Linked DNA regions of Homo sapiens. The protein of the gene in region 3 purifies or fractionates together with the protein of the main gene of each other region. This does not show direct contact. Each region holds a gene or a part of one and is shown on either strand. Other genes may lie near its edges.

Region 1 (3,797 bases), on a different chromosome or scaffold from region 3:
AAAACAAACGAAAAACAAAAACAAAACAAAACAAAACAAAAAAACATTTCCAGGATGCAGGAATGCACATGTAAGCATGCACAAAGACACACAGAGAAACAGAGAACGAGAGTTCACTTTTGGCCAGACTTAAGAATTCTAGAGAAAAAACAATCTATATGATGTACTATATTTTTAGTGCTAAATGGTGCTAAAAGCCTTTTCTGGCAACCATTAGAGACAGAGAGTTGCTTGGTTAGCTTGGGAGCAGAAAGCTGAACTGTGTGGCATCACCTGGTTTTGTCAATGTGCCTTCTTGGGCACACTCACTTGCTGGCAAGATCTGGCTGCGTCCAGATGCACTTGCATTTGCCAACCTGAATGTGCTTGAAAATGATGCTCACCCTTTGGGGAGAATAAAGCTCAGACCTCCAGCTCTGCCAGGCCCCAGAGTATCATAGATGGGTAAAGGGAAGAAATCATCACCATCAGACAGAAATCTCAGCAACGATCACACCCTCTTAAAAAATCACATAGAACTTTATTAAATAAACCAGTAGAAAGGCTCCTATTTACATCCAGGTTGTCAGTTTAAGCTCAAGTAATATGCAAGGCACAATTCTTCCTTTCTCCAGCTTTAGAAAAATCAACCACATGGCCCAGCCCTGAAGGACTGAAGGGAGCTTGTGCGGGATCCCGTCATCCTGGACTCTCCACACAGCGTCCACGCATGGATGGCCATGGGCATGAGTCTCTGGATCTCCCTGAGGGTAGCCCAGCCTCGGCCTGGAGCACAGGGGCCTGTGATCTGAGAATCTCAGATCCAGAATCAGGAGCTGGGAAGAGAGGACTTTTCCAAGGGTCTCCTCCCCCAGGCCCTGGGGAGTCCCTTCTGGATGGGCAGGCCCTGGGCTGGCGGCCGCCCTCCATCATTGGCCCAGGCCGGGCTCTAGGGCCTGCTGGGAAGCTGTCTGGGGCCCTGCGCCTGATGAGCTGCCATGAAAGTGGCCGCCTCTCACACTGGCAGGCGGTGGCTCAGATCTGCTGAGGTTCTGGAGTGGCACAGGAACAGGAGGAGCAAATGACACTGGGTCTTTGTGCTGAGGCAGGACACAGCGGCTTTCCGAAACACACACACAGAAAATATGACTCCTGCTGCCATCTCAAGGACATTTTCCTAAGGACAGTCCTGGTGTCCTGATGGAGTGAAAGGGATCACACGTGGGATGTCCCAGCAGGGCCTAAGCCAAGTCCATCAGATGTCTCAACGGCTTATGAAACAAAAACAGAGGACTGAAGTCTGTTCACAGTGGCCCATGGTTGGGCAGCAGCCCTGGGTGAGCTCCTGTGTTCTCCAGCCTCTCGCTCACCCAGGGCTTGGCTATCCTGGCCTCCAGGTGCTGGTTCCTGAGGCTTCCCTTGCGGCAGTGGCGCAGATACAGGGACACTCATGTCCCATTGCTCCTCAGAAGTCCTAGCAGCAGCCAGACTAGGGGCAAAGTAAGTTTTCACAGGGGGAAAAACCCCACCAAAAACCCCCTAAAGTAACTGGACAATCCTTTCCCTGAGACCACTACAGTAACATCACCCACAGACAACTTCTAAAGAGCACTTCTAACTGCTCAAAGTCTTGAGAAGGGAAAGATTTTAGCAAGGCTAGGAAAATAAAAATGCAACAGCACATTGTCCAGAAACCCTAGACAACCATGCAAAAAGGAATGAGCCAAAAAGTCTTAGCTTTGTAAGACTTGAAAGGAAAAAAACACACATTTAAAACTCCTACATAAAATGAGCTAATGGGCAGAGCCGAAACTACAGCTCTGTGTGAAGAGACGGCAGTGAAGCTGGCCTGGGGCCGGGGCACTCATCTGGAGGGGCTTGTTCCAGTGTGAATGCAGCAGGGATGTTCCATCTTGGGGGTGCACGAGGCTCGGCTGAGACCCATCCTCCGGGAACCTTCACGCGGCCTAGTGGGAGGCATAGGCTGGGCTCCACAGCCCTGAGGGAGGGCTGGCTTTGCGAGCAGGAGGCAATGCATTGGGAGATGTGGGTGATGAGGCAGCGAAATCTAGGGTGGGAAGAGAGACGATGTTAGCAGCAGAGCCAGGGAAAGCGGCGCACTCTTCAGTTACAGCCAGCATTCAGCAGGCGCCTGCCTCACCCAGGACACTCTCACAGTGATGCCCCGAGGCCTCCCCGGCCAGCAGAGGGAAGTCCACGGGCACCTGCTGAGCTGGCCTCATTCACACAGAGAGGCCTGGGATGCCACCCTAACACCCAGGAGCGCAGAGCCTTCCGGGGAGAACGTGTCTCAAGTTTCAGGACCACAGCAGCATCTGTCCAGGGGGCATGAGGCAGGGAGGCCCCGTGCATCTGAATGCAATGCAGCCTCGGGCAAGAGCGCCACAGGAACAAAGACCCCGAGGGGAGCAGCGATTCTGCAGTGCTCCGGAGACCTTGCAGAGATCCAGGTGTGGCTCCCAAAACCCAGGGAGGAGCACGCTGAGAGAGGCAGCTAGAAAGGGCAGGCACCTGCTGCCAGAGCAGCTGCAGAAGGCAGCAGAGCCGCGAGGAGGCCGAGCACCCGTGGCCTCCCCTGGGTGCCGCTTTGCAGGTAGAGAAGTCGTCAGGCAGAAGACAAGGGCGTGTGGGCTCTCCTTACCCAGGAAAGTGCTTCTACCCACACAACTGGGTCTTCTTTCAAAAAAATTCAGGGACCCCCCTGAAGCCGGTCCATGGGCCCCCATGTCAGCAGACACGAGCTCGAGGACTCTTTGTGTAGGGGAGAGAACCCTCAAATGGGAATCAGGAGACATTAAAGGGCCTTCACGTACAGCAGTACAGGCTGGGCACTGCATTGTTTGAGAGAGAAACTACATTCACACAGTGAGGTGCTCCCTGGAGCTGTGCAGGGTCACCAGGGCTTCGGGGTCACCAGAGAGACAGTTAGACCATTGAAATAAATGACTTTGCCCATTCTTCTGGGAAATTTCTCATCAGAACTACCCAGAATCCCCATCTGTGAGTCAGCTCGTCCAACCCCAGCTTAGAGCCTTCTGAGGCAGCCTCAGCAATTGGGCATCCAGTCCTAGCATGCACTCCTGCCTAGACAGAGCTCCTTGCTGCCCATACCTCCACCCAGCATGGCTCTACCTGGGGAAAGCTCTTGCTGAACCAGGACTGGCAGCCCCTCTGCCCCGACCCTCCTGGCTCCCACATCTGTCCTCTGGGCCTCAGGCTCCTTTGGCCCAGGCAAGGGCCTGTTGAGACTTAGGGTTCAGGAGCCTCGACCCCTCCCCCAGGGCTCTTCTCTTTCTCAGCAGCTCTGCCTGGTTGTGCCTGCAGGGGGGCTACTCACAGTGGGGGCTGTGTCCAGGGCTGGCTCGAGGCGTGAGGGCTGCAGGCACAGCAAGATCCCGGGGCGTGCAGACAGTGTGGTAGGCTGCAAGAGCACAGGGTTGGTTAGAGCAGGTCGGGGCAGGGGAACAGACCCAGAGATACAGGCAGCCTCCTCACCTATGATCATGACCGCTGTCCCAGCCAACAGGGCGAAGAGCGTGAAGAACATGACCTGGTAGGAATCCAGGAAGTGCTGGAAGAGGCTGGCTCCATCTGCCATCAATGGGAAGATGAGTTACCAAAACCACCAGGCCCACTGTGGCATCCCATCACGTTCCTGCCCTACTGTACGTCTACAGGGCAGTCCACAGGTCCCTCTTAGATGTAAGGATGGTGGTCTCAGAGGGCCAGGCCACCTGCTGGAGGCCCGGGCCCACAGCTGTTCTTGGTACCCTGGCACTTCTTCTCCTGGCGCAGGC
Region 2 (4,362 bases), on a different chromosome or scaffold from region 3:
CAAATATACCTTCCATTCAAATGTGATCATTAATTCATTTTTTCTACAGATTTTATATGTAAGATAGTTCTTCTTACATGTTTTTACCTACAGTTTTAAGTTTGTTATGTTTACTTTTCATACTGGTCTGGCATTTACTAACATACCATCAGTTGAAAAGAATGGCCTCCAATAATCTGCAATTGCTATCTCCATTACCCGCTACAAGGTGCAGCAGCTGGGTATCAACAAAGGGTATGGTATCCCTTCTTCACCCTGGAAGTCTCCATTATCAAAAATCAAATCTGGGCCACATATTCATCTACATTTTTCATTTTGCACAGCTGTATGTGCACAAGCAGGTCATGTGAAATAACTACATGAATGCTGACCTGCTGTTTGGTGCTTTAAAGTGAAGAAAAGGACTACAGGAGATTCTATTACAGATTCTAGCAAGGTAGGGAAGGAGATCCACCATCTCCAGCATTATTATCATGCAGATGCCCCTTTCCTGCTTCTATATTTCTTCTACTCCTCCTTCACCAACTATAGCACTATTATTACATAATTAGGCAGCACTGTAAAAATATAAATAAACTGTCTATCCAAGATGCTATGGAGTGGATCCATGGTAATATTTGTCAGTGAGGCCGAACACTCTTAAATTTCTACTTTCTATAAGAAAATCTCTTCTAATATTCATTTTTCTAAGAAGCATGTACTTTTGGCCAGGCATGGTGGCTCACGCCTATAATCCCAGCACTCTGGGAGGCTGAGGTGGGTGAATCACCTGAGGCTGGGAGTTCGAGACCAGCCTGGCCAACATGGTGAAACTCCGTCTCTACTAAAAATACAAAAATTAGCTGGGCATGGTGGTGGCACACGCCTGTAATCCCAGCTACTTGGGAGGGCTGAGGCAGGAGAATCACTTGAACCTAGAGTTGGAGGTTGCAGTAAGCCCAGATAGTGCCACTGCACTTCAGCCTGGGCAACAGAGCAAGACTGTCTCAAAAAAAAAAAGAAAAGAAAAGAAAAGAAAAGGGTATACTTTTAACAGTTCTTAATATCACAAAGTATCTCTAAGTCCCAAAATTTTTATTTGGACAGTTTTATTAAATCAGCACAGTCCTAAATACAGCTTTTAAATTAGTATTTTTAAAGTCTGAAAACTCATGGCCCCACAAGGCAACCCCAACTCCTCACCAAAGCAAACCAAGTTTTCACAACACATATGCTACACTCCAGCCAAACTGAAACCAGATTGCACTGTTTGCCTTCCTTTCCCAATTAGAATTCCTATTAGAATACAAGCTCAATAAGCAGAGGGTATGTCTTACCACTGCTTCCCTAGCACCTAGAGGAGTGCACAGCATTCAATATTTGCTGTATAAATAAATGGTACAATGTCTGTGTCATTCACGTTAACACTTAGCATATGTTATCTTGGTGTGTGTGTGTTTTTTTTTTAATTTTATAAAGACAGGGTCTCACTATGTTGCCCAGGCTGGTCTCGAACTCCTGGGTTCAAGTGATCCCCCTGCCTTGGCCTCCCAAAGTGTTGGGATTAAAGGCATGACACCACTGGGCCCAGCCCTTATCTTATTTTTAAGCCTATTGCTTCAACTAGACAATAAGCTCTCTTTAAAGACACAAACCAGGCACGGTGGCTCACACCTATAATCACAGCACTGCGGGAGGCCAAGGCAGGTGGAGCAGTTGAGCCCAGAAGCTCGTGACCAGCCTGGGCAACATGGTGAAACGCTGTCTCTACTAAAATTACAAAAAATAAAATTAGCCAGGTATGGTAGTGTGCACCTGTAGTCCCAGCTACTCAGGAGGCTGAGGTAGAAGGATTGCTTGAGCCCGGGAGGCAGAGGACGCAGTGAGCCAAAATCGCACCACTGCACTCCAGCCTGGACGACAGAGTGAGACCCTGTCTCAAAAATTATTTATAAATAAATAAAATAAAGACAGAAACCATTATTAATATATCCCTGTATTCTTGGTAACTAAAAGAATGTTCTCATAATAGTAACTTAGCAAATGTTAAAGCTCAGACCACCACCACAATGAAAGAATGGAGCAGATAGTCTCTAATTCTCTCAGTATTCTAAGACCATTCAGATATTGAAATAGAAACACAGAGCAATTATATAGGTAGAAAAATAGCCTTTATTTTTTTCCCTCAAAGAAAATATAGAGGTAGGGCAAGAAAAACACATGAAATGTGGCATAAAACACAGTAATTTTCAACATTTAATTAACATAAATAAGTTGGGTTTTAAAAATTTAATTTTAGAACTAGGCAGCTATTTCTTTCATACTAATAATATACTTCAAATATCTCATTCTTTTATTATGCCTGGAAGTCTTCATCATTCTTTGGAAAGTTAAGAAATTGCTAAAAGTTGAACTACAGAACAGAGTGTTCAGACTTCATCCCATTATGAGGATAATAAAAGTAGGACTCTATCAGTGTTCTCAAACTATTAGGTATAAATCATTTTCCAACATAGTAAATCTGACAGGTAAACTACAGTTCTGCAAAGTCTAATAACAAGTTATGTTATTAAGTACAGTGTTTTGAGAATCCTGAGTCAAATAAATGAGAACCAATCTATCAAAAGGGAAGCAATGCTCAACAGAGAAACCTCCCACTTACCCTGTGATTTTATATCCATGGTCACATATGGAAAACTCCCAAGGACAGCCATAACCTCTTCATATTTTTCATCTTCAAGGAAGTGCAGTAGAGTGTGACGATCTGATTCTTTTAAACTCACCAAATCCTGGATAGTTTTAATTTTATACTGAATAAAAAAAAAAAAGAAAATACATAATTCCCTAACTCACAAAGCTTTTCATAAAAAGAAAATTACTCACATGTTAACCACAACAAAATCCAGCAACTTTTAGAAAAGTGTTGATTAATGTGCATTTCAAAGTACAAAATAACGATATGGCATTTCATGACCTTTTTCTCCAAGAAAATTTAAATTAAGAATTTTTAAATTATAAAGTTAATACAGGCTTATTTTTTTAAATTAGAAAAAACAAAGTTGGAGGGAAAAAATAAGAATCTTGACTCAACCAAGAACTTTGTCAATTGATGTCCTCAGTTTATTTTCAATTTTAATAACAAAAACCTTTAATTAGCAATTAATAGGTTTACTATTAACAAACCTTTAATAATAAACGTTTACTTTTACCTAATAAAAGTAAAAATAAACCTCAATAAAGACGCACCTTCAAAGTTTTACTATGCAATATTCTCATTTTTGTTATTCTTAAAATATAGCTATTACTACAGTAATATCCATCTTGGCAAAATGGTTACTTAGGAGCGTGTTCTTTAATTTTCCAGGTGTTTGGTGCTAGTTATTTTTCACTTTCAAAGACACAGATTAGATCATGAGGCATGTAAAATCTCTGCTTTTAGATTCTGAAGTTTTTAATTATGACTTAACATACAATCAAATTTATAAGGGGAACATGAGTACTTAAAAGGACAGAGAACTCTGATACTAATTTCCAACATGCATTTATTAATTCTACATTAATATACTATCAAATCCAATGTCTATTCTCTGCTAGTTTTATCTATCATATACAAAATAATGTTTAAAATCTCCTACTAGAATTGTAACTTCAGTTTCTTATATTTCCTCAAGTTTTTCATTTACACAAATTTTTGTTATATCTTAAGATTCATTATCATGTTTATACTATAGATTATATATTCTAAATAAGAACTGTCTTTATTTGATTTATTAAATGTTTTTGTTGTTCATGCTTAACCAGTAAACAATTGCCCAACCTTAAGCCAAGAATAAAATGACTGTAAAGTAGACAGTACATTTATTTTTGGTAACATAATATAAGGAACTAACTGTTGACTTTTTAAATGCAACAACCCCCAAAATAATAAAACTACTTACAGTAGTAAAATACTATAAAACACAGCTACCTAGTCAAGAAAATGTTAACAGAACCACCTGAGAGAAAGTTTTAGAGTATTTAAGACATTCTAAATCTAAAAAATGCATAGTAACCATTTCCAGAAAACTTTTATTCATGTTACCTTTAAGTGACAGGACAAACTGCTGAAAACTGACTTTAAAGTAGCAAAGAATTACCTTCTTATGATTAGAAACCCGTCTAAGATTGTCCTCTTCAATATGAGGGAGCTGCAGAAGGGGAGACTTAAATTGCTGAAGTCCCTGAACGGCCATCTGAGAAAGCTTCATGCAGTTTTCTAGGGATGCCAAAGTTGGAGCACGAAACTCCCTTTCTTAGAAAGAACAGGAAAAAAAGAAACAGGGCTGGACTTTTTACATGTTCAGGAGTATACAATTCATCACAAAAACAAAATTCACACTAAAT
Region 3 (4,799 bases):
GCACTTGTCAATGGATGTGACATCACTCAACAGAGGGGATGGGATATTGCTTAGGGGATTTGGGACCATTCATCCTTAGGAACAGAGCTAATGGTCAGTGGGCCTGGAGCTTATCTTGCTCAGACTGTTCAGAGGAGATGTGGGAGGGGGGTTCATTGATATACGGAGTTGGAACTATTAACCTGTGGAGGGGAGGCCATTGGCCACTTGTGCATGAGGATACTACTGGTCAGTGAAGGTAAAGCCAATGATATTAGGGGACTGAGTAATTGATTTTTGGAGATGAGGCCATTGTTCCATGGAGGTGGGACATTGGTCTATTAATACATTAAGAATGGTCAGGCTGGGCGCAGTGGCTCACACCTGTAATCCCAGCACTTTGGGAGGCCGAGGCTGGCAGATCACGAGGTCAGGAGTTCAAGACCAGCCTGACAAATATGGTGAAACCCCATCCTTACTAAAAATACAAAAATTAGCCAGGTGTGGTGGCAGGTGCCTGTAGTCTCAGCTACTCGGGAGGCTGAGGCAGGAGAATCGCTTGAACCTGGGAGGCAGAGGTTGCAGTGAGCTGAGATTATGCCACTGCACTCCAGCCTGGGCAACAGAGCGAGACTCCATCTCAAAAAGAAAGAAAAAAGAAAAAAAAGAAAGAAAAAAGAAAGATCAGTGGGGACATAGACATGGGTGTATTAATCCATAAGGTAGGACTATTGATCAGTGGGATGAATCTATTAATCCATGGGAATAATCAGTAAGGATAAGGTCACAGACCAGGGGAGATGAGACTATTGGTAAGTGATTATGGTCACTAACTATGAGTTAGTGAAGACATGGTTACTGATTCTTGGAGGCTGGGCTATTGATCTTTGGGGATAAGACCATTGATCTATGGAGATGAAGATAGGGAGCCTCTGGTCATTGCAAAAGGGGCACCAATCCCTGGGAGTTAGGCTATTGATCTAATGGGGTGGGGCATTTTTCCATGAGGATGGGCTTATTGGTTAATGTGCTGAAGGCTACAGATTTTAGAAGACCAAATTATTGATCTTTGGGGATGAAACCATGGTTCCATAGGAATGAGGCTACTGGTCTGTGGCAATGAGGCCACTGATGCATAGGGATGGGCTATTGACCTGTGGGTTTCGGATCATTGGCCCACAGAGGTGTGTGACTATTGGGCAGTGAGGATGGGTATTGATTTTAAGGAACTGGACTATTGAATGTTGGGATGGCTTTGATCCACAGAAGTTGAGTTATTAATCCACTTGGATGGAACTGTGGATCAATGGGGCTGAGTCTAATCGGAAGTTTAGTGCAGTGAGAGCATCTGGTCAGTGGTGAAGGTGACCAGAATCAGAGATGAGATTTTTGATCTGTGGGAAGAGTTATTGGTTGCTGGGATTGGGTTGTTGATCTCTAGAGGTGAAGCTACCGACTCATGGAAACGGGGATTTCGGTGAGAGGATCTCAAAGCCCTGAGGATCCATGAGGGTATGACTGCTAATCTATGGGCTATTCCCCTACAGAGCGTTGGGTCATTTGGTGGCAGGCATGGGACTGTGGGTTACTGGGTCTGAGGATATTGTCTTTGGAGATAGTTAGTTGACTTGTAGGGGAGGGGTCGCTGGTCAGAAATGGGGTAATTTGTTTGTGAAGTTGAACTATTGATCAGTGGGAATGGAGCTGTTGGTGTTTAGGAATTAACATATTGATCTTCAGGAATGAGGTCACTGAGATGGAGCGAACAGTCCATGTGGGCTGTTAGTGGGGATGAGACTATTCTCTTTGGAGATGAGGCCATTGATTCACGGATAGGGGGCCACTAATTAGTGGGAATGGGACTAATAGTCCATAGAGGTCGAGTCATTCCCTTGCGCGGAAGAGGTAGGGAAGGGGTATTTCTTGATGGAGAGTGAAGTTGAGACATGGATAGACCATTGAATAGAAGTCCAGAGAAGACTGCAGAGTCCAGCGAATCGTCTTCGACCTCCTGTAAACGCCCGCTGCTTGGGTTAGCTTCCCTAGCACCCCCTCCTTTCTACCAGCCCTGCCCCCACGACAGCCCTCACCTGTCTGCGGGGTAACCCAGGAACAGGTAGCCGGAGGCAAAGCCCAAGATGAAGAGGATCTGCTCCAGGATCACCTGCCAGCCCAGGTCACACACCAGATCCCACTGGGGATGTGAGAAGGGTGCAGCGGGCGTGAGGCCCCGCCCTCGCCGCTCTCTGCCCGCCCCCAGACCCGCGGCCCGCCTGGCCGCCTCACCTGGCCGATGGCGTTGGTGGTGAGCACAGGAAGGCCATTATAGTCCCAATCCTTGAGGCAATGGTTGAAGTCCGGCGGGGCGAAGCCGCTGCACGAGGGGTCGGTACTGGTGGCGACACGGCTGGCGGCGCTGGCTGCTAGGGCAGCGCTGGCGACGCTGACGCCGCTGGCATTGGGAGGCTGCTCCCAGCCAGAGGCATTAGGGGGGAAGGCCCCGTAGTGGCAATGCAGCGGGGGCGCCAGCGTGAAGATGGGGTCCGAGGCCATGCCCAGAGCCACGAAGAGCACCGGCAGGCAGCAGAGGCCGAGCTGCAGCTGCTGGCCGCCGCCCAGCGCCCCCACCTGGGCGAGCAGCGCCTCAAAGCTGAGGGGGCCTGGGGGCACGGCCAGCGACAGGCTGCTGCCCAGTCCGTCGCCGCCCGCGTCTCCCTCCCCCTCCCGCTCGCGCTCCCGCTCACCCTGCAGCTGCTCCGTGGGCACCGCATCTCCGAGGGTCCCGACCTGCTGTTGGGGGGCAGGGGGTGGCAGGAGAAGGGTGAAGCGGAGGAAACCGCAGAGCAAGGGCAGGGGGCAGGTGGGAGGGAGGGCTAGGAAGGCAGTCAGGGGCGAGGGATGCGCAGGAGGAAAATGCCAGACGCTCCGCGGGGGCGGGGGTGCTGGGAGAGGATGGCGTCGCCACCTGGGGCTCGGGCACTTACTCCGTTGGAGGTGGGGGTGATCTCTACAGTGTTGTCGATTTTGCCGCCGCCCCCGCCATTGGGCTCGGGGGTCCCGGTGGCCACCCGGGGAGCCAGCTTGCCGACCGCAGGGGCCCTGCCGGCCCGCGCCGAAAGGATGCGCTGTCCTCTGGCTCAGTTGCGCGCCGGCTGCCCGGACACAGACAGCTCGAAGAGATCCCGCTCTGCAGCTCTGCAGCCGCGGGCGCCTCCTTGGTCTCTGCGATCTCTGCGCTGCTTTCCCCTCCCCTTCCTCTAGACTCTCCTCCCCTTCCCACGTCAGCAGAACCTTCGGTCCAGACTCTTCGTCAGAGAGAGGAAGGGGGGCCAGGGCCCAGGGGAGGGAGGGAAGGGGGGCTCTGTCGTCTCTTTCCTGGGTCTGCGGGCCATTGCGGTAAAAAAGAAAAAAAGCTGAAGGATAGTAGCTAGTCCAGGCAGATGCCAGAGATTCTTCCTCTGCTTCCAATCATTTGCCATCATTCATTCATTCATTCATTCACCCATTCACTAATCAGTAAAATTTAAGTGTCCACTACGTTCCAGGACTTGCACTAGACTTTAAGGATAACAGGGTGGACAAGTTCCACTTTGGAGACCTTTACTCCAGGGAGACAGACATGTAAACTGGCTATTACAGTACAACTTATGCATATGGAAGACTGTCTTGGCCCTGTATCAGCCCTAGCTTCAGTCCTCTACAAGGAGACCACTTTCTTGGGTTTCATCACTCCCATCCTGTTTGAATCTCCATTTCTCAACAGCATTTGGCACTGTTGACCCCTCTTCCTCTAAACACTCTCTTCCTTTGCTGCTGAGTCTCTCTTGCTCCCCTTTTCTCCATTGCAGAAATCGTCTTCCAGCTCATGGCATTGGTGCTGAGCATGGGCAGGCCATTATCCTCCCGGTTCTTGAGGCAATGATTGAAGTCCAGCGGGGTGACGCAACTGCAGGAGGGGTCTGTATTGGTAGTGATGAGGCTGTGGTGCTGGCTTCTAGGGCCATTCCCGTCTGTATCATTTAGACACCATGGTTCAGTGTCTGGAATCCTCACAGACTTAGTCCTAGGCCCTCCTCTCATCTCACACTGTCTCCACTTTGGGATCTTACCTATGCCCACAGCTTCAATCACCACCCATACAAACAATACAAACCTGACGCCCAGACTGACATCTCCAGCTTCCACCTCTGTTCTGAGCTCCAGACCTATGAAGCCACCTCTTATTTGACCTTCACCTTGGATGACTCACAGGGACCTCAAACTCAATATGTTCAAGACGAAATTTTTGCTTTTCCCCCATAACTTGGTTGGCTTCCACTGCTTTTTTCTGCAGCGAATGGCACCCTCAACATCGCATTGTGGCCAAATGCTCAGGCAACAGCCTTTAGAGCTTTCTCTTCCTTATCCATGTTGAATTCTTTACAAAATTCTGCCCATTTTACTTCCTATATATTCTCAGACATCCCACATCTCTCCATCTCTACCATTATTAGTCAAGCTACCTGTTGCAAAGACCACTTTAGCTCCCTAATTCCTAACTGGTGTTCAGCGTCCGCTTTGTTTATACCTCCTTATCACCCATATGTCATTTATAGTCAGATAGAATGATCTTTTCAAAATACAGATCTGATCATGTATCTTTCCTGCTAACCAGCCTTCAGTGGTGTCTCCTCACTGTCAAAGTGAATATTAAAAATCTAGATACCTCATACATGGTTCTACATGCCTGGTCACATGCTGTCTGTAGTTCCATCTCACTTCTTTCCCCAAACTCTCTGCACTCCAGCCACAGACCTTCTTCTAGTTTTCCCAGCGCCACG
Region 4 (4,362 bases), on a different chromosome or scaffold from region 3:
TATTTTACGCAGGAGAGCTAATGTTCATGTTCTATAATTGTTAGCGATAAGATCCAAAGCCTATGTTTACTCTGAAACTCCCTTTTAGGAATACTTTGGCTTAAAGAATTGCCTTAGATACTGTTAGCATATTTAATGTTAAAGTAACAAGTTTTAATTTTAAAAAAATGTATATATAGTCAATAATGGATATGCTACCCTTCCCATGATACATTATTCATAAAGTAACTTTATGAGTGTAATTGCTAAACAGGAACACTATACAACCCTATTCTCTAAATTATTAATTTCTACACTTTGAAAAAAAGTTAAGAGTAATAGCCTTTTGCCTCCAAAAAAAAAAATTCAGAAACCAAGGATAGTTGTCTCTTGATATCCATGAGGTCTTGGTTCCAGGATCCCCAGAAATACCAAAGTCATTGGATGCTCAAGTCCCTATATAAAATAGCATAGTATTTGCATATAATCTATGCACGTCCTCTCATATACTTTAAATCATCTCTAGCTTACTTATAATACCTAATACAATGTAACTGCTGTGCAAATGGTTGTTATACTGTTATTGTTTAAGGAATAATGACAAGAAAAAAGTCTGTACATGTTCAGTACAATGCAATTTTTTAAAAATATTTTTGAATATTTCAAAATAGAAAATATTATATTTTGGTTGGTGGAATCCATGGATGTGAAACCAACAGATATAGAGGGCTGACTATATATTACTCAAAAAAAAAAATTGGCCTGGCATGGTGGCTCATGTTTGTAATCCCAGCACTTTGGGAGGCTGAGGTGGGAGGATCGTTTGAGCCCAGGAGTTTGAGACCAGCCTGGGCAACATAGTGACACCTCATCACTATGGAAAAAAAAAAAAAGCCCAGAAGTTTGAGGCTGAAGTGAGCTATAATCACACCACTGCACTCCAGCCTGGGCAACAGAGTGAGACCCGTCTCAAAAAAAAAAACTTACAGAAAATTGTAATTTTGCCTGTAGTTATCAGGATAGCAATTAGCAGGGTAGCAATAAATCTAAAACTTTGGACAAATATCATCAGTTTCTTCCACCAATGCCTTGGCCATGCCAAAGAAGCAGAAGTGTTGGATTATATAGATGGAGGGGGAGCAGCAGAAGGAGGAAAGGACAGAGGTGACTCCAAGCTGGCTGTACCAACCATGAGGAATGGAAGAAAGTTTGGGACAGGTACCATCACTGAGCACCTACTACATGCTAATCTCCTGGTTCTATACTTTTTATCTCATTTAAACCTTATAATGAGCCTATGAAGGAGGATATCAGTATCTCTTTTTTTTTTGAGACGGAGTCTCGCTCTGTCACGCAGGCTGGAATGCAGTGGCACAATCTTGGCTCACTGTAACCTCCGCTTCCTGGGTTCAAGGGATTCTCCTGACTCAGCCTCCCAAGTAGCTGGGACTACAGGCGTGCACCACCACACCCAGCTAATTGTTGTATTTCTAGTAGAGACGGGGTTTTGCCATATTGGCCAGGCTGGTCTCAGACTCCTGACCTCAAGTGATCCGTCCACCTCGGCCTCCCAAAGTGCTGGGATTACAGACGTGAGCTACCATGCTCGGCCAGTGTCTCTGTTTTATAGATGAGAAGATGGAGGCTTAGAGTTGGTAAATCTGTGGTACCTCTGGGTTCCGTAGTTTGACCCTCTGCATCAGTAGTCCATTGCTTTATTGTTTTTTAATCATTTACACATCTAGGCATGAGTAAGGGTGAGTGGGCTAATGGTTGGCTGGGGAGGAGCTGAATGCGAGTAGGAAGTTATCCAGAAGCAAAACTGCCACATTGAGGTGATGCATGGTACAGACTGCATGCGTGACTGCGCCTGACACTGTTCTGCTTCAGTGAACAGGTATATTTTAGCATTAAACTGGTTGAAATAAAGGTAAAGATCATTGAAAATATATTTTTAAAATAAATGTTTTAGACCATATTCCATGAGAAATCCAGAATTGGATGCCAAAGAAGCAATCTCTAATTATACATGACCTCCTTCCAGGGACTCTTTATACCAAGGTTATGTTCTACATCATTTCAGACTCTTGCCTCTTTATGTTTAAAGCAGGATATATAAATCTGCAGCAAATTCATAAGGTAACAACATTCTTTTGGACAAGGCATAGCCTTTGACAATATTTTAAGAACACAAGTGACAGCTTGAGTATGTGGGACCTATTAAAATGTATAGCTTTGACTTTTCTGTCTTCCAGAGCTGAAAAGGGTGTTATGATATTAATTAAATGAGTCATATTCTTCTCTTTTTTAATTAGATTCTCTCTAGGAATAATTCATCACCATAGAAGTGTATTGAGTGTGTCATCCAGTAAAAGTCTAAAATTTTACTTTACGTTTTTAATTTTGCTCTACTATTATTTTCTGCGGTTTTGGCTATGACAATGCTTTGTCACTTGGAATAGTTTAAGTTTTGCTTACTAATGGCTTGATATACACTGAAAATAGCAGTGTTTCCCAGTTTGACTTTTCAGAATGAGCTATAGCAGGGGGAAGTGGTTACTTGTTGAGTTGGATCTGGAGCCTTCCTCTGATACATTTTACTAAGTGTTTCTTAGACTGCTTAAGAATTTTACTTTGCTTGGTGAAACCATTTGACTTTACTTTTTCCCTTAGGAAAACTATGTTTTTCTCCCAATAATTAAGTTTTATCGTAGGTACTTTTTGTTTGTTATCCACATTAGCAAAAGAAATAACTCCTCCCACCCAAAGAATGGCAGATTGGTGTGACGTGGTTATGCAATAAACTAACAGTAAATTATTTTGTGTAATTCTTTGCTGTATTACCTTCTCTATCTTTGTTTTTATTCCTTTAAGAGGTAACTAGAGAGCCAGTAGATACTACACGCAATATTTCCTCTACTTTGAATTTTAAAGATTGTGTATTATATTGCAGTTCCTGAAATAATTTCATATTAACTGAAAATAGCATTGGACAATACTTTCCTATGGCTGAATTTTTTTTTTTATGTTTTCAACCTTGTGGTGTCTTCCCACAATTAGGAAAGTATTCCGTATGAATACAGCTGAAAGTGCTGTGGTTTCCTCCCTGTTCTTCAGCCTTGCCCTCCTCTGTTTCAGGATCTGTGTTTTCTAACCTAGCTGCCCTCAAGACTCTCTCTTTGGTTCATTCTCCTAAAAAGCCCCTTCCTACCCTTCTTCTACAGAGTTCTATATGTTAAATCTTCATTTGTATGATTGCATAATTTTTGATCCACTCAGTCGTCAGCCTGATGGTTTGGTTGATGGGTTGGTTTTGTTGGTATTTTTGTGTTTTTTTTTGTCATCCAGAAATGCTTTGGAGTCTCCATCTCGTTTCCTTAAGTCATGCTGTTTTCATTATGACTAGCTGAGATTTTTTTCCCCCACTAATACTCATAGCAAGGATTAAATGGTTAAGGAAGGAATGATTTTTAAACTCAGCAGTCAACAATTTGGAGTTTCCTTATTTGTAGAGAAATCAGAATATGTGGTATAATTCATTCAAACACATTCCTGCTAGAATAAATCCATTAAGTTGTAGATTTTTTTTTATTCCAATGTGCTTGGTGTATCGTTAATAGTCATTTGCTTCCCAGTGAATTGTTTTTCTTTCCAGAACCTATGTCAGAGGAAATTTACTAGAAGTTACCAAAAGTGATTATGTAAAGAATACTGTCATACAAAGTCTCTTAAAGTGAACATTGAAAAATCAGTCCATATAAAACACTGATTTAGGTCTTAGGGGCTTTCAAGGAATTAAACCTAGCCCTTACTATCGAGAACTTTAAAATCTCCAAAGCTGGCCGGGTGTGGTAGCTCACACCTGTAATCCCAGCACTTTGGGAGGCCAAGGCAGGAGGATGGCATGAGTCCAGGAATTTGAGACCAGCCTGGACAACATGGCAAAAAATGTTAAACATGTGGCATTGAGGCCGGGCGTGGTGGCTCACGCCTGTATTCCCAACACTTTTGGAGGCCGAGACAGGTGGATCATTTGAGGTCAGGAGTTTGAGACCAGCCCAGCCAACATGGTGAAACCCCATCTCTACTAAAAATACAAAAATTAGCCGGGTGATAGTGGCGCAGGCCTGTAATCCCAGCTACTCGGGAGGCTGAGGCAAGAGAATCGCTTGAGCCTGGGAGGCAGAGGTTGCAGTGCGCCAAGATTGTACCACTGCATTCCAGTCTGGGCAACAGAGTGAGACCCTGTCTCAAAAAAAACAAAAAAACAAAAAAAACAGTGGCCTTGAAATCTTTATCCAGGTAAAAAGCAATCGTAATAATAACGAAAAATGTTCTAATTTGAAAGTCAGGCACAAGTGCAGTTTGAAACCTGATTGTTAC
Region 5 (2,211 bases), on a different chromosome or scaffold from region 3:
AATACCACGGGGAGGTGACACAGAGGGAAAACCACCCTGAAGGGTTTTAGGACAGCACATGCTCCTGGGAGGCAGGAGGAGAACCAAGGAAAAGAATTCCACAGGGAGGTGGCAGAGGGAAAGCCACCTTGAAGGGTTTTAGGAGGGCTGTGTCGTTAAAATGCCTCCCAAACGAGCCTTCACCAACCTTCATTCCAAGTAGCTCTGCCAGCTGCCCTGGACTTCTAACTGGAGGGGCCTACGCTGCTGTTTCAGTCTCAGGACAAAACAGCTTCTTACGTGCAAATGCTGGAGGTGATTCTTCTCCCTTTATGAAACAAACCCAAGCCCATTCGGAACAAGACTGCCCACCTCGCTCCAGCTGTGATGCTTTGGCATCCAAGGGCAGGGGAGAGAAGGGGCTGCACAGACACCTCACGCTTTCCTGTGCTCCCCACGTGAAAGAACGCCAGTTTAAAAAATCAAGAGTAAGAGGTATTTGAAGAAAGGGGAAGAGAGAATTTGGTGGATCAAATAAAGCACATTTATTGTAGCGATGTCTGAACTTTTTTCCTATGTGTTAAGAGAAAATAGTGACCGCTGTATCACAAACCCTTTCAGGTCACACCGATCGTTACAAATTCCTCCATGGAGTCAAAGAAAAGACAGTAGGAAAGGTACCGCTCTCTGAACTTTGTACAAAATAATTCATATAAAAAGGAAAAAAGGTAAACGTACCATAAAGTTTCCCTCTCAATTCCCTAAGGTTTGGTTACAAAACTTGACCAAATGTTCTAAGTATAAAAAGTACAGACGTCACTCTGCACAACTCGGGAAGTCTAAGTCTTGTTTTTCCTAATACAAAAGAAACGATCATTTCCCTTTCCTGGCCCTGCAGGCACGTGAGCTTTCTGCGTGGCTGAAGAGCACCACACTGAGCTCCTGCTACCAGAGATGTCTGCTTTTGCCCCTAACGATAAAGGCTTCTGTGGCATCAGTGGTGTCACTCCCGCTGGGCAGAGTTGCGGTGGCTCTGTGAGCCGACACCATGTGGAGCAGTGCTGTTCACAGCCCAGCCTACCTGACCACAGAAACACCCACACAGAGCTTCTCAAACAGCTCAGCACCAGCACTCCACGTGTCTACCCTGATCCCAGGACGCCTGGACGACATCAAAATTCAAACAGGATAAAAACTCACAAACACACTCATTGGAGTATAAGATGTGGGCTTTTTTTTTTTTTTTTAAAAAAAGATAGTTCAAAAGCCTTAAAAAGTATTCTCTCCAGATTATAAAAGGTTAGTTAAAACTGTTTAATAGGAACAATCTTGCACAAGCAGAAAGAGCTTTGATTTGGAGGATTATAGCAACATACAACTGAGAGAGTCCACAGGGACAGTCAGACGGGATGTCTGCACCTCTTCTAGAGACTCTGTGTTAAAAACACGACCGACTGAACATTCTGCCCCCTTTCAAGGCACATGCCACTTCTTAAAACGGTCAGCTTTCCACACAGGCTACAAGATATTTTATTTACATTTAAAAATAGGTTTTCTTCTTCAACGTAGTGGAAAGGCCCGGAGCCCAGTCACAGCGGTGCCTGCCTAGCACAAGTGTAGGACAGCTTTATTGATCTCTGGGTTTGTCCAGTCATTCCGAATGTCATCCAGGTGGTTATCGAAATCCACGAGCGTCTCGTAGGACCGGCTGTCCAGGAGCGAGGCTGAGATCCTCTGTGCCTCTGGCCAGTCTTCACAGTAGTCACTACGGGTCAAACATGAAGAAGTCAGCATCTAACAGTGAAAACGGGCGGCTTGTAACAGCATCAAGAGAGAAGGCCAGCCACATGCACAGTGGTATGAACAGAGATGGTGCAGAGTACTGAGAAACATGTGCATTTCAAACGCATGAAGAGGTATACAGAGCATAGAAGACATGGTTAATACATGGAAGGGACGCCTTTCACGTGGAATTCTGAGAAAGTTGGAGGCAGATGACTGAAGCTTTCTGAGTGGCCACAGATACATCAAAGCACAGGCCTGGGAAGAGTGTCTGTGCTCTAGCGCCTGGGGTGGGAAGACCTGTGGGTACCACTGAGGTTCCCTCTACTGCCTGGAAGCGCTGGAACACTGGGGCCTACAGGAGCCGGGGAATATGCTTGGTATCATGCTTCTGGAGAAAACGCTAACTGAAAACACAGGCGGGGTGAGAGTGGCTCTCACGTGGCCGGG
Region 6 (4,362 bases), on a different chromosome or scaffold from region 3:
GTGTTTCTTTCACTAGGGTCTGTCTTTCTAAGGATACGATTCATTGTTTTCTATCAACATTTTAAACATGTTTTAAATGGCAGGGTGGTATTTTTATAAACCTGTGCATCTGGAAGCTAGCAGAACATTCTCTCAGACAGCATGCTCCCCCTGTTAGACCATGACTTTAGCTCTCTGGCACCGCGCAGAGGCAGGAAGAAGCAAATATGCCTTTTGCTCCTCCGCAGATGTCTGCCAGCCCAGCAATTCAATGTCACAGCTAGCATGGGTTTTTCATGAGGCTGAGAACACCTGTTACCTGTATATGTGATTGCCTGAGATGAGGGTGGGCTGGAAGGAGAGGAGGAGGAGGGGAGGGGATGCTGGGTGACTTGGCAAGGAGCCCTCTTCACAGAGTGAACAGGCAAAAGGAAAATTTGCTTTGGGGGAGGGTGGATCCTAGTGAGGAGAGGGAGCCTCAGGACCTCTGTTTGTGATCCTGAGCAAAACATCGACCCTCTTCCATCTGCCCACCTGTAAAAAAAGAAGGAATAAGGACCGTCATTTCTCTCCATTTCTGAGAGAACTGAGGAACAAGTGAGAGCGGAGGGAGGCGTGCTGAAATGCCTGCAGGGGCCTCTGTGGGTCCCAGGGCCTCCCTCATTCTGGGTCTTTCTGCAGTGCCAGGAAACCCTCTGGGAAGTTCTTTCTTCTACACCAGAGAATGTCATGACAGCTGCAGTACTTTCAGCCATGACAAGTAGAGGAGCAGACACTGTCCACACTGTACCAGAGAGCCAAATGGCGGGTCCCCTCTCTGACTCCAGAGTAGGCCTGGTGTCCAGAGATCCCCAACAGACATCTGCTCACACCTAGATTAAAGCTACATTTATATAAACCAGGCTGGGGGCACACCTGAGAACTCTGCTCATCCTCAAAAGAGACAGTTAAGATGGGGGTCAAGTTCCCTCTGCTCTAAGTCCTTTTGGGAATGGCTGTGTCACATGAATAGAGATGATCTGGGCTCTAACCTCGCCTCTCAGAACACAGCACGTGCAACCAGATCCAGAAAAAGCCCCGTGCAGGGCCGCAGCCATCTGCCCCGGCTGCCTTACCTCTCTGTATACTGCCTCACTACACAATGGTGGGGTGCCTTCCTACTTCTGTCATTCCCCTCTCCACTACGCTGACAATTTTTAAGTAAAAAACAACACAAACACATTTCCTCACAAGATGACACATTCCACCTGGCCCTAGACTCTGCACTCAACAACACAGGGACAAAACTGGAAGAGAAATATGACACCCAATTCTGCCAACAGCATGTGAAATGGAAAAGGTAAGACAGAGGCCAAGCCCCAAGTTACTCAACAGAAAGATAGATTCTGGAGAATATTCTAGACAACCAAACAGGTAAGAGCAGAGGTGCAGGAAACTGGAGGGGATTTGCCTGCAATGGAACTCCAGCTGTGAACACGGAGAAAAAGGGCACATTTAAAGAAGGCCTTCATCATGGTCATCTGGTGAGGGTAGGGACTGGGAGAGGGACAGTGAGGGTGAACATGAAAAGGCCCTGGCCAGACGGCACCTGTGGGCCAGGTGATGGGCAGCAGAGGCAGCAAGGTGGGCTTCTTGATGACAGTTGGGGAGCTTGCAGGAAGGCCTGGGCAGGAGAAGCTGACCTTACTTTGCAGACAAGGGGTGCAGCCAGGCCACAGCAGGTAAGTGGCCCACCCAAACTCACGCAGCACACAGAAGTGAAGCTGCAATTCACTGCACACCATTCTGTAACCAACAGATGGAGACACCAGAGTGAGTGAGCACCACTCACTGCCTGAGGAATGCAGGGGAAACAAGACACCCAGGTGGGATAAAAGAAAAAAACTCAAGAGGACCCCCCGGGCCTCCTGCTGGAGTAGCAGGGCCAGGCTGCTCACAGGACAAAAGGAAATCACCCCCACGCATGTTCCAGGCACAACCCGGGGCAGCAGAAATAATAGGGACCAGTGTCCTAGATTGGCTCCTCTCTCAGGCACCTGTGTCTGTCCCCTCCTGCTGTCTGGGCTGGCAGCTGGCAGCTACAGGCAGAGGAGCTGGACCAAAGCTGTATGGTTCACCTGCTCGCACCCCGACACCATGTCCTCTCTGTACACGCTTAGATCCCCTCCTCCATGCCAGCTCGACTGCGTGCCATGCTGCGCAGTGAGTTCCCCGGGGCCAGCTGGTCCTGCTCCCCACCTGAGGCCTCTTTTCTGTTGGTGTGGGCTTTCCTGCTTGGGAGGCACACTCACCGTAGGTGAAGAAGCTCGGCAGATAGAGGACCTTCCTCCCCAGCACATTGGTCCCAAGGGTGGGGGGCATCGGCTCATGACCCACCTTCAGAATTAACAAAGACAAAGGGACGCTCAGAGTCTCGTGGTGATTCAGCCTCACCACCTCTCCTCACACCTCTTGCCCCCTTTGCTTAACTCTTCTCCCACAAATTCTAATGTGGCTCTTGTTCATGTTTTCCCCATCAAAGCATACCAGAAAGCTCGTCAGTGTCTCTAACCATTGGCAGCACGTAAACTCCCAATCAACAGAAATGCCTGGTCCCAGACACTGTCCAACCACAATCCAAGTCACACCCACACCCCAACATTCTTACATTCAAATCCCAAATATTCCCAGTAGAGAAACCTCCATTTGTATGTACTGCAAACCCTACTCCCATCTCAGAACAAATCTCAGTTATTCTCATCTCCAGATGAAAAACTTCATTCCAACCTCAATTCCAAATGTGGCAATAAGAAAATACATCATACCCAAACCTCAGACAGGTCAGCCATTAAGTCATCTATTCCAAAGTGCACCCCAAACTCAAATTTCTTACCAAATCTACTGCAGACACCTCCATGTCTATTCCTCCCATTCCCAGGCTTAGCAAACTGTTACCTCAAATTCCAGCTACTCCTCAAACATATCCTTAGCTGCGTTCTCACCTCAATCACCCTACATCCCTGTGACAAAACGACCCCCTCATTTCTGTAGGGCTATGATAGTTCTTGCTGTACAGATGCTTCTTATATCTGAAATATTTATTTATTTATTTTTTTTTTTGAGATGGAGTTTCACTCTTGTTGCCCAGGATGGAGTGCAATGGCGTGCTCTCAGCTCACCGCAACCTCCACCTCCTCCACCTCCCGGGTTCAAGTGATTCTCCTACCCCAGCCTCCCAAGTAGCTGGGAATACAAGCACCCGCCACCATACCCGGCAAATTTTTTGTATTTTTAGTAGAGACGGGGTTTCTCCATGTTGGTCAGGCTGGTCTCGAACTCCCGACCTCAGGTGATCCACCCGCCTCGGCCTCCCAAAGTGCTGGGATTACAGGCATGAGCCACTGCGCCCAGCCTGAAATATTTATTAAACCCGCGGGTGGGTGAAGGACCATCCATATCCATGTGAGGAGCAGGAAGTCTCTGTCGAGGGGTGAGAGCCCCTGCTGCCAGGGAGGAGGCAAGGTGTCAAGGAGACCAGCACCTAGGTGGGGAGTGAGAAGGCTCCTTCCTCCCTTGGCAAGGGGCCAGGATACCAGCCCTGTGCCCTCTAAGCAGGCCAGCTGGGCCCATGGACCAGAGCGATTCCTCTGACATGTGGGAGAGGATTTGGCCTGCAGCTGTGGGAGGCAGTAGAAGTGGCAAGTTAGAAAGCGCTACCTTGTAAACTGGATTAGGTATGCTTCCAGTGCTTTTTGGGATCAACCCTGTCCCCTTTTGCCTTTATCAAGCAAGTGCTTTTCAAAGTTCAGGCTATCTCCTATGGATCTGATTCTGAGATGCCTAACAGATTAATGATTGTAAATTTAAAAACTCCTCTATGATGGGGACTGTCTTTAAAAGAAAAAAATTTTGACCCAGTGGAGCAAAGGAGGAAAGGGGTGAGTCAGCTGACCCAGGCAGTGAGTACTTCCCTTCTAGACCTTTTCCCTTCTGGGTTAAAAGCTCCAAGGTTGTTCTGAATTAAGTTTTGTCTTGATCTGTGTTCTCTTAAATACAGGTGGTATTCCTTTATTCCTCCACTCCAAATCGCCACAACTGCTCTTTTGCTGTCCTTATCCAGTTTAGTCAACACTATTTGGGAGTCCCACTGACCCCAATTTCATACTTAAATTTGTAACGTTATCCCATATCCCCATGGCTCCCAAATCTGTTGAATCTATTTTCTTAACTTCTATTGGGTTATCATAGGCACACTGGCTGTATCTCACCCCCATTCCTCCTGCCTTCAAGTTTTAATTATTTGTTCCCAAGTCATTAAACCCAATTTCAACCTCAAATCTGTTAACCCAGTCCTAACTACGGCAAATGCTGTGGCCCTATATCAGATACCAGCAGGGACAGTCT
Region 7 (4,362 bases), on a different chromosome or scaffold from region 3:
CTGTGCTGAGCACTGGGGATCCAGTGGTGAGTTAGAGCAGCAGGCCTTTGGGGAAGGCAGCCACTAAATAACTACAAATTACTAAGAAAATTGCAAGACTGAGAAATGCATCAAGGAGAGTCCCAGGGCGTTTTTGGGAACTGTAATGGGAGACCTCCCACCCTGGTCTGAGGGTCAGGGAATGTGTCCTTACAGAGGTGACATTTAGGGTGAGATCTGAATGAGGAGGATGAAGGATTTGGCAGGAGGAAGCTTCCCAGCAGAGAAACAGCCCTCAGGAAGGCTCTAAGGCAGGTGGGGATAGGAGGAGTGTAAATGATCAGGGACTAGAGGGATCTGATGGCCACAGGTGAGAGTGCAGACAGAGGCCACATTGGGGCCTGGTAGCTCTGCTACAGAATGCAGATGCATTCACAGGGTAGGGGAAGCCACTGAAAGAGTTTTAGCAGGGGAGTGACATGATCAGATATGCCTTTTATCTTTCAGTTTCACTTGTATTGCTGTGAAGGTCAGGGTCTGGAGGGGGGATAGCAGGCTGACCAGGGAGACCAGTTTAGGTGGCTACAGTAGTTGCCCAGACAAGAATTGGCTGTGGCCTTTGCTGAGAAGTGTTAGTTGGGATGGGGAAAGTAGATGGATTGTGAATGTGTTTAGCAGGTGAAATTTTTTTTTTTCTTTTTGAGAAGGAGTCTTGCTCTTGTCACCCAGGCTGGAGTGCAGTGGCACCATCTTGGCTCACTGCAACCTCCACCTCCTGGGTTCAAATGATTCTCCTGCCTCAGCCTCCCGAGTAGCTGGGATTACAGGCATGCGCCACCATGCCTGGCTAATTTTTTTTTTTTTTTTTGAGATGGAGTTTTGCTCTTGTTGCTCAGGCTGGAGCAATGGTGCGATCTTGGCTCATTGCAACCTCTGCCTCCCGGGTTCAAGCGATTCTCTTGTCTCAGCTTCCTGAGTAGCTGGGATTACAGGCACCCGTCACTACACCCCGGCTAATTTTTGGTATTTTTAGTAGAGATGGGGTTTCGCCATGTTGGCCAGGCTGGTCTCGAACTCCTGACCTCAGGTGATCTGCCCGCCTTGACCTCCCAAAGTGCTGGGATTACAGGCGTGAGCCACTGCGCCTGGCCTAATTTTTGTATTTTTTAGTAGAGATGGGGTTTCACCATGTTGGCCAGGCTGGTCTTGAATTCCTGACCTCAAGTAATCTGCCTGCCTTGGCCTCCCAAAGTGTTAGGATTACAGGTATGAACCAGCAAGCCCAGTGTGCAGGTTAATTAATAGAACTTAGTTATTGTGCCTTTCCATCTCTTTGAATTGTAAACACCACTCATCATAATCATCATCATCACCACAGCCATTTATGGAGTGTTTAACCTGTGGCAGGGACCATACACATCTTTTCTCATTTAATCTTCACAGTAGCCTCATAATTTTCTACATTTTGGTGGTATTGTCTCCATTTGCTAAATGAGCACACAGTATTGCCTATGGAAAGTATGGATTGCTGTCCCTCCAACCCTTGACTGTTTTTGGTCCCTCCTCATTTGCCTTTCCTGCCAGAAGCCATTGTGAAAACACCTGCAGCTGGTAAAGAGCCTTCTGAGAAAAGCTGGAAGGGTGTGAAGGTGCTGACCTAGGCTAGGGCTCCCTGGCAGAATTGGCATGGTGCCCTCACACTTGTCCTTCAGACAACTTCTTTGCTGCCAGTGATGCAATAATTATCACTTTATGTATAGCTCAAACTGCAGTCTCTTAAAAGGCACATTACCAGTCGGGTGCAGTGGCTCACGCCTGTAATCCCAGCACACTGGGAGGCCGAGGTGGCTGGATCATTTGAGGCCAGAAGTTTGAGACCAGCCTGGCCAACATGGTGAAACCCCATCTCTACTAAAAATAAAAAAAGTAGCCAGGTGTGGTGGTGCGCATCTGTAATCCCAGCTATTTGGGAGGCTAAGGCAGGAGAATTGCTTGAACCCAGGAGATGGAGGCTGCAGTGAGCTGAGATCGTGCCACTGCACTCCAGCCCGGACAACAGAGCAAGACTCTGTCTCAAAGAAAATAAAAAATAAAAGCACATTACCAAGGGAGGGTTCAATGACTGTCACATAGTATGACATTTTTATTTTCGTGTGGAATAATTCAGTGTTTCTTTTCTTCCTAATTCCTAAATGAAAACGTTGGTACCTGAAGGCATAAGATTTTTTTGTTCCTAATCTGTACTGTGTACTTAAATATTTTTACAATGTGCAGGGGGATGGAGGGGACAACACTCTTGAACTTAAAATACCAGCTCCATGCACCACTTACATTCCCTTTTGATTTTGTGCAGGGGCTATCTGAGGGTCATCAGAGAGAACCAGATTAAAATTTGTGCCCTGATTTTTTTATCCTGAGGTTCTTCGTTTTGGCATTCTTCATTTACTTGTGGAATCTAGAATGTTGATTAGGTAGCAAGAGCAAATCTCTGAAGAACTGTGGTGTTTGGGAGTTGGGTTGGACCCCAAACCTGGCATCCTTTCTTTTCCAGACTCTTAGCCTCTCTGGCTTCATTTCCTGCTTTGTCTTGTGGCTGACACAGAAAACATGTGTGTTTGTTTTTTCTTCTGATCATACAGGCAATACACACTCATTAACCAAAGGCTATAGAAATAAAAGGCTATAGAAATACCGCCAATGTGATCCCGCCCCTCCACCAATTTGGCAAAGCTCCCTTCCCAGGCACCCAGCCGCTTCTCTGGATTGTAGTCACAGAAGTGCTTGACCTTCTGCTAAAGACTCACTTTGCTGCCCAAGCCTTAAACTCTGTCCTATGTAACCTCCATTGCCACCTCTCCCTTCTTACCTGCCTTTTTTTTTTTTTTTTTGGATACAGAGCCTTGCTCTGTCACCCAGGCTGGAGTGCAGTGGCGTGATTCTCGGCTCACTGCAGCCTCTGCCTCCCAGGTTCAAGTGATTCTCCTGCCTCAGCCTCCCAAGTAGCTGGGATTACCGGTGCATGCCGCCACATCTGGCTAATTTTTGTATTTTTAGTACAGACGGGATTTCAACATGTTGGCCAAGCTGGTCTCGAACTCCTGACCTCAAGGGATCCGCCCTCCTTGGCCTCCCAAAGTACTGGGATTACAGGTGTGAGCCACGCGCCCAGCCCCTTCTTACCTGCTTTCTCATCAGCTTTGTGTATCCTCAGATTGCTCCTATGTTCCAAATAGCAAAATAGAAACCTCCCTTAGTCTTCCTTGCCTGTAGCGAATCTACCCTACCTTCCTCGCCCCCTTTATAGCTAGATTTTTGGAAAGAATTGTGTATATTTATCCATGTAGTTACCATTTTGGTTTCTCTATTTCTTTATGTGGATCCATATTTCCATCTGTTAACATTTTTCTTCTGCCTGAAGGAGTTCCTTGAAGATTTTTGTCATGTGGGTTCGCTGGTAATGAATTCTTTTATCTTTTGTATGTCTGAAGAAGTGAAGAAGTATTTATTTCACTTATTATTTTTTTTTTTTTTGAGATGGAGTCTCGCTCTGTAGCCCAGGCTGGAGTGCAGTGGCACTATCTCAGGTCACTGCAACCTCCACCTCCTGGGTTCAAGCGATTCTCTTGCCTCGGCCTCCCGAGCAGCTGGGATTACGGGCGCCCGCTACCATGCCAGGCTAATTTTTTTTTTTGTATTTTTAGTAGATACAGGGTTTCACCATGTTGGCTAGGCTGTTCTGGAACTCCTGACCTCAAGTCATCCACCTGCCTCGGTCTCCCTAAGTGCTGGGAGTACAGGCGTGAGCCACCATGCCCAGCCAAAATCATTTTTTTCTTTTTTTTTGAGATGGAGTCGCACTCTTGCTTGCTTTGTTTCCAGTGAGAAACCTGTTGTTATCCTTTGTTCCTCTCTACATGATGTTTTGTTTTTTTTCCTCTGGCTGCTTTAAAGATTTTTTTCTTTGTCACTGGTTTTGAGCAATTTGATTGTGATGTGCTTTGTTGTAGTTCATTGAGTTTGGGTTTTGTTGAGCTTCTTAGATCTATGGATTTATAGTTTTCACCAAGTTTGGAAAGTTTTTGGCTATAATTTCTTCAAATATTTTTCTGTTCCTCCACTCTCTTCTCTTGCCAGTACTCCAGTTACTGTACATTAGACCACTTGAAATTGTCCTACGGCCCACTGATGCTCTTAATTTCTTTCCATTCTTTTTTTTTTTCCTGTGTGTTTCATTTTGGATAGGTTCTTTTTATTTATTTATTTATTTATTTATTTATTTTTTTATTGATCATTCTTGGGTGTTTCTCGCAGAGGGGGATTTGGCAGGGTCACAGGACAATAGTGGAGGGAAGGTCAGCAGATAAACAAGTGAACAAAGGTCTC

What was found.
Region 1: the proteins of SLC22A17 (region 3) and NUP210 purify together in Homo sapiens (affinity purification with mass spectrometry; one large-scale study listed by BioGRID and IntAct). This does not show direct contact.
Region 2: the proteins of SLC22A17 (region 3) and SEC63 purify together in Homo sapiens (affinity purification with mass spectrometry; one large-scale study listed by BioGRID and IntAct). This does not show direct contact.
Region 4: the proteins of SLC22A17 (region 3) and DNAJC16 purify together in Homo sapiens (affinity purification with mass spectrometry; one large-scale study listed by BioGRID and IntAct). This does not show direct contact.
Region 5: the proteins of SLC22A17 (region 3) and EMC8 purify together in Homo sapiens (affinity purification with mass spectrometry; one large-scale study listed by BioGRID and IntAct). This does not show direct contact.
Region 6: the proteins of SLC22A17 (region 3) and MTCH1 purify together in Homo sapiens (affinity purification with mass spectrometry; one large-scale study listed by BioGRID and IntAct). This does not show direct contact.
Region 7: the proteins of SLC22A17 (region 3) and TXNDC15 purify together in Homo sapiens (affinity purification with mass spectrometry; one large-scale study listed by BioGRID and IntAct). This does not show direct contact.

The regions. Positions count from the first base shown.
Region 1 is NC_000003.12:13,315,735-13,319,531, forward strand, and holds the end of NUP210 (nuclear pore membrane glycoprotein 210 precursor), read right to left. Parts: intron 3,592-3,797; coding exon 3,496-3,591; intron 3,422-3,495; coding exon 3,338-3,421; intron 2,048-3,337; coding exon 1,947-2,047; 3' UTR 501-1,946; downstream 1-500. UniProt on the Homo sapiens protein: Nucleoporin essential for nuclear pore assembly and fusion, nuclear pore spacing, as well as structural integrity.
Region 2 is NC_000006.12:107,898,729-107,903,090, forward strand, and holds part of SEC63 (translocation protein SEC63 homolog), read right to left. Parts: intron 4,271-4,362; coding exon 4,116-4,270; intron 2,790-4,115; coding exon 2,642-2,789; intron 1-2,641. UniProt on the Homo sapiens protein: Mediates cotranslational and post-translational transport of certain precursor polypeptides across endoplasmic reticulum (ER). Proposed to play an auxiliary role in recognition of precursors with short and apolar signal peptides.
Region 3 is NC_000014.9:23,349,683-23,354,481, forward strand, and holds the start of SLC22A17 (solute carrier family 22 member 17), read right to left. Parts: upstream 3,206-4,799; 5' UTR 3,060-3,205; coding exon 2,964-3,059; intron 2,770-2,963; coding exon 2,266-2,769; intron 2,174-2,265; coding exon 2,070-2,173; intron 1-2,069. UniProt on the Homo sapiens protein: Cell surface receptor for LCN2 (24p3) that plays a key role in iron homeostasis and transport.
Region 4 is NC_000001.11:15,529,397-15,533,758, forward strand, and holds part of DNAJC16 (dnaJ homolog subfamily C member 16 isoform 1 precursor), read left to right. Parts: intron 1-4,362. UniProt on the Homo sapiens protein: Plays an important role in regulating the size of autophagosomes during the formation process.
Region 5 is NC_000016.10:85,778,124-85,780,334, forward strand, and holds the end of EMC8 (ER membrane protein complex subunit 8), read right to left. Parts: intron 1,745-2,211; coding exon 1,585-1,744; 3' UTR 501-1,584; downstream 1-500. UniProt on the Homo sapiens protein: Part of the endoplasmic reticulum membrane protein complex (EMC) that enables the energy-independent insertion into endoplasmic reticulum membranes of newly synthesized membrane proteins.
Region 6 is NC_000006.12:36,979,318-36,983,679, forward strand, and holds part of MTCH1 (mitochondrial carrier homolog 1), read right to left. Parts: intron 2,356-4,362; coding exon 2,271-2,355; intron 1-2,270.
Region 7 is NC_000005.10:134,876,945-134,881,306, forward strand, and holds part of TXNDC15 (thioredoxin domain-containing protein 15 isoform 1 precursor), read left to right. Parts: intron 1-4,362. UniProt on the Homo sapiens protein: Acts as a positive regulator of ciliary hedgehog signaling. Involved in ciliogenesis.